Regions from separate parts of the Homo sapiens genome. Here region 1 is linked to region 2. A link means that fine-mapping ties the variant in region 2 to the expression of a gene that starts in the linked region. Tissue or cell type: whole blood. Region 2 holds a variant in brackets; the other region holds the start of a gene. All regions are shown on one strand. Distances are between the middles of the regions.

Region 1 (4,115 bases), 83 kb before region 2:
GGCAGCAGCCATGGGTGCTGATGAACCTTCTCCGATGCTGGCAGGTATTTTGCCCACACACTGCCAGTGTGGCCTGTTGGGAGCAGGAGGAGGCCAGATAGGTGTGTGCTGGTCTCAGAACACGCTTAGCTCTGTCCCATCCTGGTTTTCCCTTGGATAGGCTTGAACACACCCATCATGAACAGGTCTGTGGACTTGGTGCCCTTCCTAGATTGACTGAATCTACAAGGAATTGGCAGCCTTTTAAGGTGGGCAAGTCAGGATGATCAGCCCACTCTGCAGGGCCAGATACTGAGGCTCAGGAAGGACCAGGACTTGCCCAAGTTCACTCAGCTGGTTAGGGGCAAGGTTGGGGGGTCTTTAGCCTCCAAAGGGAAGACAGAAAAGATCCTTTTCCACCCCTGACCTCTACCTGGAAGACTCCTGCCCCAGGAGATGCAACTTAGATCCCTGTCCCTCAGGCCTCTCTGTCCTGCAGAGCTGGCGTCTGCTGTTTGGCCTCCTCCTCGTGTGAGCTCTGGGCTCATGCCAGCGGACTTGAGCCCCGGAATGAATGCCTGTCTCACACGGTAGATTAGATTATATAAATAACAGGCAAGTGCCAAATGCATAGCCCTACACCTAGCACACTATTTAACCACTGGCTCTCTGGGGAGAAAAGTCCTGATTTGAGGTGTTTGCCAATTTCCGCAGTGTAAATACTCCCAGCATTGCTGACTTCAGGCTACAGGGTGGCATTGCTGAACCCAGAGCTGGGAAGGGATGTTCACTGTTGCCCCTCACAAATTAGTTTCAGCCAGTGCCAGTGCCCAGCGGGGCTCCAGGAAGTCCTGCTTCTCTGGGTAACAGTTGGCCTGGCATATTCTTCCCTCTACATTGTGAAGGTGAGATATCGCCTCTGCTGGCTTTTATGCCACATGAGTTATTTTGTGCCAGGGGCTCCAAGGCCTACAGGCCCACAAGCATCTTTTCATCTCTGGAAGTGTGTGTGTATCTGATGGGGGTGCCAGCCCAGTGGGATGGGGACTGAGATGAGAATACTCTGGTATCTCCCTTGTGCCTCAGTTTCCTCACCTAGGATCATGGAGGCTGGGGTAAGGGTGAAGTGTTAGCTCAGGGCATTGCCTGGAGCAGGGCTCAGAACTTAGCAGTATGGTTACTGACACAGGTCACCTGCTGCATTAGGGCCAGAGACGCCCAAGAGAGGGCTTGTCCGTGGGGGTCTAGAGGAGGAAGGAGCTAGAGATCATGGAAGACTTCTCGGGAGAGGTGGCATCTGGCAGAGGTGGGAAGGAAGAACACTTTGGGTCAAGGGGCTTCTGGAAGCCTCTCCATATCCCATCCAAGGCATTCCAGCTCAGCTTCGGTCTTGAAAGTTCTGGGATTTAGAGCATATAACTTCTGCCTTTGGCGCCTCAGTTTGCTCTAGACTGTGAAATGGGCATAATGATCACCAGTGCCTCCCTGGGTGATGATGAGGTCCTCATGGTTCCTGGTGGTGAAGTGAGGGCAGGAAAGGACACGCTGAGCCCCACCAGGCTTAGCCCCAGGCTGGGCTCCCGAGGGCGGCGGTACCCCTGGTCCTTTTCTTCCTAGCCTGCCCATTCTGTCCTGGCACAGGGCCTTGAGGTCTAGCGCGCCGGGCTGCGGCGTGCTGAGGCGTTGAGCCTGCTGCCTCCTCTCAGGAAGAAACGGGGTCCTCCGCAGCTGACAGCCCTGCGGGGCGTTCCAAAGAACTTCAGAGGACAGGAGCGCTACCTCGAGCAAAGAACCGCGGGTGGGAGCCCAGGTAGCCGGCCCGCAGGTGGCCGCGCGCGCCTGCCAGTCAGCCAGCCCGTCCGCAGCCAGGTGGGCGTGCCAGGCCCAGCCCCCTGCGCCGGTCCGGGGCGGGGCGAACGGAGCCCCGCCCTCCCCGCGCGCCGGGTCGGAGCCGGTGCGGGAGCGGAGCCGCGCGAAGCCGGCAGGAGCACGCGGGAGCGCGGCCCCGCAGTGGCCCGGCCCGAGAGAGCAGCGCGCAGGAGCTGGAGCGGCGCCACGGCCCCCACCCCAGCGCGGACCTCGCCCGGAACTCGGACCCCGTCCTCGAAGCGTGATCTCTCCCGCCTCGCACGCCCTGGCCGCCGGGCCGCGGGCATGGACGGCGTCCGCTCGCCCTGTGAGTGCCGAGCCTCCCCTCAACGCCGCTCGCCGCCTTTGTGTGCGCGCCGCGGCGCTGCAGCCCCCTCCCCGCGCGCCCCTCCCGCGCCCCGGGCCCGCGTCCTTTGTGGAGCCGCCGCCGGGCCACTGCCTTCCTCCCACCCCCGGGCTTCCCTATCCCCTTTACAGCTGCCTCCGGGACAGCCTAGCAGAACCCTCCTGGGCCAGGGCTGGGCAGGGCGCGAGATCCCTCTGCCGGCCTCCGGGGCCCTCAGGGACACCCTAGCAGGTCCTCTCTCCCAGGGTTCCAGGGACACCACAGGCCCGTCCCTCTCCGCAGCCTGGGGCTGAGCAGGGCACGGACCCCTCCTCCCCAACCCAAGCCTCTGGTCCCGTCTGCAGCCCCCCTTTCCCAGGGCCCCCAGAGACGGCCCCCGCAGGCTCTCTCCGCGGCCGGGGCTGGGCAGGTTGCGGGCTTAGGGCGGCGTTGTCTCATCCGGCGGCCTGGGCAGGTGCGGCAGGGCCGGCGCTCACGCGGGCCTGTGTGTCCTTGGCCCACAGAGATGGACGGCGATGGCGGCCGCCGAGACGTCCCCGGCACGCTGATGGAGCCCGGGCGCGGCGCGGGGCCCGCGGGCATGGCGGAGCCTCGGGCGAAGGCGGCGCGGCCGGGGCCCCAGCGCTTTCTGCGGCGCAGCGTGGTAGAGTCGGACCAGGAGGAGCCGCCGGGCTTGGAGGCAGCCGAGGCGCCGGGCCCGCAGCCCCCGCAGCCCCTGCAGCGCCGGGTGCTTCTGCTCTGCAAGACGCGCCGCCTCATCGCGGAGCGCGCCCGCGGACGCCCCGCCGCCCCCGCGCCCGCAGCGCTGGTAGCGCAGCCGGGAGCCCCCGGAGCCCCCGCGGACGCCGGCCCCGAGCCCGTGGGCACGCAGGAGCCCGGCCCGGACCCCATCGCAGCCGCTGTCGAAACCGCGCCTGCCCCCGACGGCGGCCCCAGGGAGGAGGCGGCGGCGACCGTGAGGAAGGAGGATGAGGGGGCGGCCGAGGCGAAGCCTGAGCCCGGGCGCACTCGCCGGGACGAGCCCGAAGAGGAGGAGGACGACGAGGACGACCTCAAGGCCGTGGCCACCTCTCTGGACGGCCGCTTCCTCAAGTTCGACATCGAGCTGGGCCGCGGTTCCTTCAAGACGGTCTACAAGGGGCTGGACACGGAGACCTGGGTGGAGGTGGCCTGGTGTGAGCTGCAGGTGAGGGTGCCCCAGCCCGCAGGGGGCTTTCCGCAGGGTCTGTCCGCGAGTGCGTCCTTGGGCCTGTCCTTGCTCCTGCGCCTGGCCTTAAGAAGCCCTGGGGGCGGCGGGGCTCCATGTGTGTCACCCTCTGTGTGGATGGCTGGCAGGATGCATACCAGGTGTGCGGACGGCATGTGGGGCCTGGCTGTGTCCGTGCGCAGGTTGCGGTTTGTGAGTCAGCTGGTGGCGAGGGCAGGCCTCTGTTGTGCGTTTGGTGTAAGTGTGCACGCTGTGGGCGTAGAGAGGGTCCTGGAGAGTGGGCCTCGGAGGCTGTGTCTCTTAGGCTGCTGCTTCTCCAGTCCCGATGACCTACTTTAATGACCCAGGGAGTCTGGACTGTTGTGTCTTTGCAAAACAGTGTGGAGGCTTCAAGGCCCGGTGTGTGCAGTCAGAGTGTTTTGGGGGCTCTGGGCTGCCCATAAATTAGTACTTTCCTGTGTCCAGCAAGCCGTGGCTGCCCCAGCAGGGATACCTGCAGAGACTTCTTCTGACCCAGGGCCTGTGACCCAGAGGTGGTGCCTGGTAGAGCTCTGGGGACAGCTGGGCAAGGCCTGGAAGTGTGGTTAGTCGCCTCTGCTGCTCTGAGAGCTCCATTTGTTCACAAAATGGACGTGTGAGAGGTCTTAAAACCGAGTCATGCAGAATGCGTGTGGGGGTTTTTCTTGGCTGCAGAGGCTCTGGGCATGCATTTTT
Region 2 (4,115 bases):
ACAAAGGCTGGGAATTCTTTCTACAACTGGCTTAGGCTGAAGACATGATGGGGCCTAGTCAAGCCTAGTTGGAGGGTCAGAGGCGTGAGCTGCGCTTTGGTCAGGGAGGAGTCTTTGTCAGCAGCAAGCAGCTGGTTCGTCAGCGCAGCACAAACACCAGGTCCTCACTGGGCCACTGAAACTGGAGAACATTTCTTCTCTCATCTTACTGTGTTTTAAACCTGTGTCTTGTATTACTTTATACACATGTGTTTCAAACATGATAAAGCATAATAATAAAGTGAACACCCGTGAAGTTATCACTCAGCCACCAGCTGATGCTGCATGTGCGGCTGACGCTTCCAGTGCTTGCCTGCCCGAGCAGGAAGCCACACATGCGACATCAGCCACATCAGCCTGTGTCGTGTCCACTGGCCCCCTGGTTTTCAGTCTTCTTGTGTGTCTCTGTGTGTGAGTCTTTGTGAGCTGCACACATGTAAGTCCTGCACAGTAAGCAATGGGGCTATCTTTAGCTGTGTGCTTTGTAAAAATAGCATCTTCTCAGCCTTGTTTTTTTCACTCAGCACTCGGATACTCCTCTCATTTTATTGCTTTTTCTGCCATCTTAGTAAACCAAGTCACCTAACATACCTGTGTGAAGTAAGCATGCTACAGATATACAAATTTGGTCCATAAAAACAGCCCAGCAGCCCTCCTCCTCACAGCCCATTCCTATCCCAGGGACAGACTGGCTCCAGAGGTTCGAGTTGAAGGGTGGGTGTGTGGCCTGTGGGACAGGCGCTGTTTAGACAAGCTTCTGCCCGCCCTGTGGACTGTCTTTCTGTGAGTGTGAGGTACCAGCTGTCCCTGAATGTCCCATCAGTGGTTAGAGGTCGGCAGGCCTTGGGTTCATCATTCTGACCATGACGACCTTGCCAGCCCCTTAGTAAAGGTGGAACTGCAGAAGTTTCATTTAATTGGCGTGGATTCTAATGCCAGGTTTTACCTGGACCTTGTATTTTTAGATTTTTATTTTGTTTTCAAGTTAATTTTATTCTCAACATACTTGAAAAGAAACATAATAGGAAAACATTTTCTAGTTGCAAAGGGGTTCTAGTTCAGTTTTGTTTAGTGAAAATTTCACAAAATTGGAACGTTGCTTAAATTCTCGTATGTGGCACTCCAGTCACAGCTGGCTGGATGTTCCAACTTTGGCCACAGTGTACTCCTCTTAGACAACATTGCAGTCACATGTTACACTAAATTAAGTGGTGAATCACGGAACACAGCACAAGCCAGCACTTTGTCTGGAGGTGTATGCAGGTGGTGCTCCTGGGGTTGGGGTCTGGGGTGCCAGGGGAGTGTGGAGCGCAGAGGAGCTCTGCTTTTCAGCCAGCTGTTTATAGTAGGGCAGATGTGCCCATCCTAGAAGGGATCTGAGACCACAGATGCCCCAGGCAGGGCCTAGAGCATCTCGGTGACTGCAGAGGTGTCTGCCTGGGAGGAGGTGCCATGGCAGGAAAGGGGCAGGGTCTGGACCCCACTGGGTGGTGGCACAGGCTGACCTCTTCCATTGGTTATGGTTTTATGAGATGCACAGCATTTTCTCTGCCTGAATGGCCGAGGATTTAGCCAGAGCCGGTGTGAGCCCAGGGCCACATGCCCACTGTGAAAGTTGGAGACTGTGGACATCTCCTGAGCCCCTGGTCTGGAGGCTTCGTGGCATTCAGGCTGTGGTGTGGGACCTCCCCTCAGCCATGACAGGAGCTGCTCGTTGGACATCAGGCCACGCTTGCCTGTGTGCCCGGGCCATAGTTGAAGGTCAAAGCCTGAGGCTGGGAGAGCAGGGGGTGCGCAGACCGACAGGTGACATATGGCCATCCTGCTATAACCTTCCCGTCCCCCTGTTGCTTTCTGTCCCCCACAACCTCCTGCTGGCTGGAACCTTTGCCTTCAAATCCATCCTTCTTGTCTGTCA[T/C]GACTGCCTGGGCACCTGTGCCCAGATGGACCCCCTCCCCTCTTCCCAGTCCCCGTCCTCGGCCCCCTGCATCCTATGCACTTACCTGTTCTGAAGATGGCTGGACCGGCCTCAGGGTCTGTAACCAGCTCCAGCTGGGGCAGGGCATTGCTGGCCCAGGTCCCATGCTTGGAGGAGGGAGTTGCTTCTCAAGATGAGGCTGCTCTCCTCCCATCCTGGGGCCATCCATGTCACTTGCTGAGCTGTCCAGCCCCTGTCTTGGGGACTGCACCCTTTCACCATTCTTCCCTTGGGGCCTGGTACAGGGTAGACATCCGTCAATCCAGATGAAGACCTAGGGTGGTCTTGGCCTTGCAGCTGGTCCTCACTGGCAGTATGTCCCTTTGCAGGTGGAGCATGACTTTATCCTGCAGGCCGAGCGGGAAACGTTCATCGAGCAGATGAAGGATGTCATGGACAAGGCAGAGGACATGCTCAGCGAGGACACAGACGCCGACCGTGGCTCCGACCCAGGGACCAGCCCGCCACACCTCAGCACCTGCGGCCTGGGCACCGGGGAGGTGAGGTTGTGAAATCCGGGGTGGGAGGTGGTGAGAGTGCAGTGGCTGGGCAGGTGGGCGCTGCAGCTCAGTGGGCTCATTTCTGACCCTCCACCTCATTCAGGAGAGCCGACAATCCCAAGCCAACGCCCCCGTGTATCAGCAGAACGGTGAGTCTGCAACTTCCCTCCCTGCTTTTAAGCAGGCGTTTGATGAAAGTCCCCACTCAGCATATTACCAGGGGTTTGGCCATTGCTTGGGGGGATTATGGAAGCATGTGGTGACCAGGGGCCCCAGTCTGGGGACAGCTGCCCTGTCCGAGGAGCTGTCACCTGCAACCGGCATCACGGCCTTCATGGATGGTGCCTTGGGCATCCCAGGAACCAAGCCTACGCGAGGGGTCCTCTCGGGAGCTTCGGGGGCTGCCAGTGAGGCACCCCAGGTTCTGCTGTGCACCCCTTGCCCTCTGGTGTGAGGGAAGAGCAGGCAGAAGCCCATCACCAGGGCCTCTTTACCAAGGAGCCTGGGGAACCACCTGCTTCGTGGAGGGAAGCGTTGGGGATTAATGACTGGGAACAGTGTTCTCTGCCCACACCCTTCCTGGAGAAAATCCCATAGGTGTAAAGGAGTTCACAGACCCACTGTGGCAAGTCTGGTGCAGGTGATGGGGGTCACACTGGCCTGGAAAGGCGCTCACTCACTCAGCGTGCTGTTTCTGTTCTGCCCTTCAGTCCTGCACACCGGGAAGAGGTGGTTCATCATCTGTCCGGTGGCTGAGCACCCCGCCCCCGAGGCCCCTGAATCTTCGCCCCCACTTCCTCTAAGCTCCCTGCCGCCAGAAGCCAGCCAAGGTATGAGCAGCAGGCGCCCACACAAGCCCCTCCCTGTTTCATGTACAGGCCTCCTTCTGTGCATGACCCAGCCGGTATGTGCCCCGTGCCCAGGTCCATGCAGGGGGCTCACCCTGCCCTGTCTCCCATGGCGCAGAGCAGCCTGTGGGGCTGTGTTCCTATCCTTGTTTTCTGCTGAATCAGCTCAGTCAAAGCAGCCTCCAGGTTTGAGTCTGCCCTGTTACCCCACCAAGTAGGTGGCTCGCATGGCCATATAGGTGTGTGTTGAAGAGCTCCGCTGTCCTTCCTTCACAGTGTTAACCTGGCAACTCCTTGCTCCTGTCCCTTTCCTCTGTGCCGCACACCTGCAGCAGACACGCCTCTGCTGGTTCTGCTTGCTTTGGGGGGTGGGGTGGGAAAGTCCCTGTTGGTGCTGAGACTCTGATTTTAAAGTGTTCACACAGACATTTATCACTGTGCATTGATCTGCACCTGCACCTGCCTGTACAGATGCCAACAAGCCCGTGCTTTGGGCTGTCAGTTAAATCTTGTTGGTCCTTTGGGAGGCTGAAAATAGTCACTTGAACAAATTTAAGGTTTAATTCCTTACCAGTTGGCAGGGGAAAGTTACTGATTCTATAACTTGACATAACCTTATGGCACATTCATGAAAAATATCTGTAAATCATTTTTAATTTTATGTCATGTGCTTCCAGTGACTCCCATTATCTTTTGGAGATTCGTTCCCATGGGGGACAGGTCAGCCTAATAACGAAATCCAAACAAAGC

What was found. PIP is the estimated chance that this variant, and not a neighbour inherited with it, causes the effect.
Region 1: WNK2 starts here. The variant in region 2 is fine-mapped to the expression of WNK2 in whole blood (TOPMed, PIP 0.96).

Annotation. Positions count from the first base shown.
Region 1 is chr9:93,182,231-93,186,345 of GRCh38, forward strand. WNK2 (WNK lysine deficient protein kinase 2) reads left to right here and starts at 1,909. Exons shown (of 30, transcript NM_006648.4): 1 at 1,909-2,155; 2 at 2,698-3,380. The coding sequence starts at 2,700. RefSeq lists an enhancer at 3,947-4,115.
Region 2 is chr9:93,265,400-93,269,514 of GRCh38, forward strand. WNK2 (WNK lysine deficient protein kinase 2) reads left to right here. Exons shown (of 30, transcript NM_006648.4): 17 at 2,347-2,517; 18 at 2,621-2,666; 19 at 3,228-3,347. It overlaps LOC124902214 (a long non-coding RNA gene), which reads right to left and starts at 3,262. Exons shown (of 2, transcript XR_007061668.1): 1 at 2,043-3,262; 2 at 1-181. The variant T/C (reference allele first, on the strand shown) is at 1,958.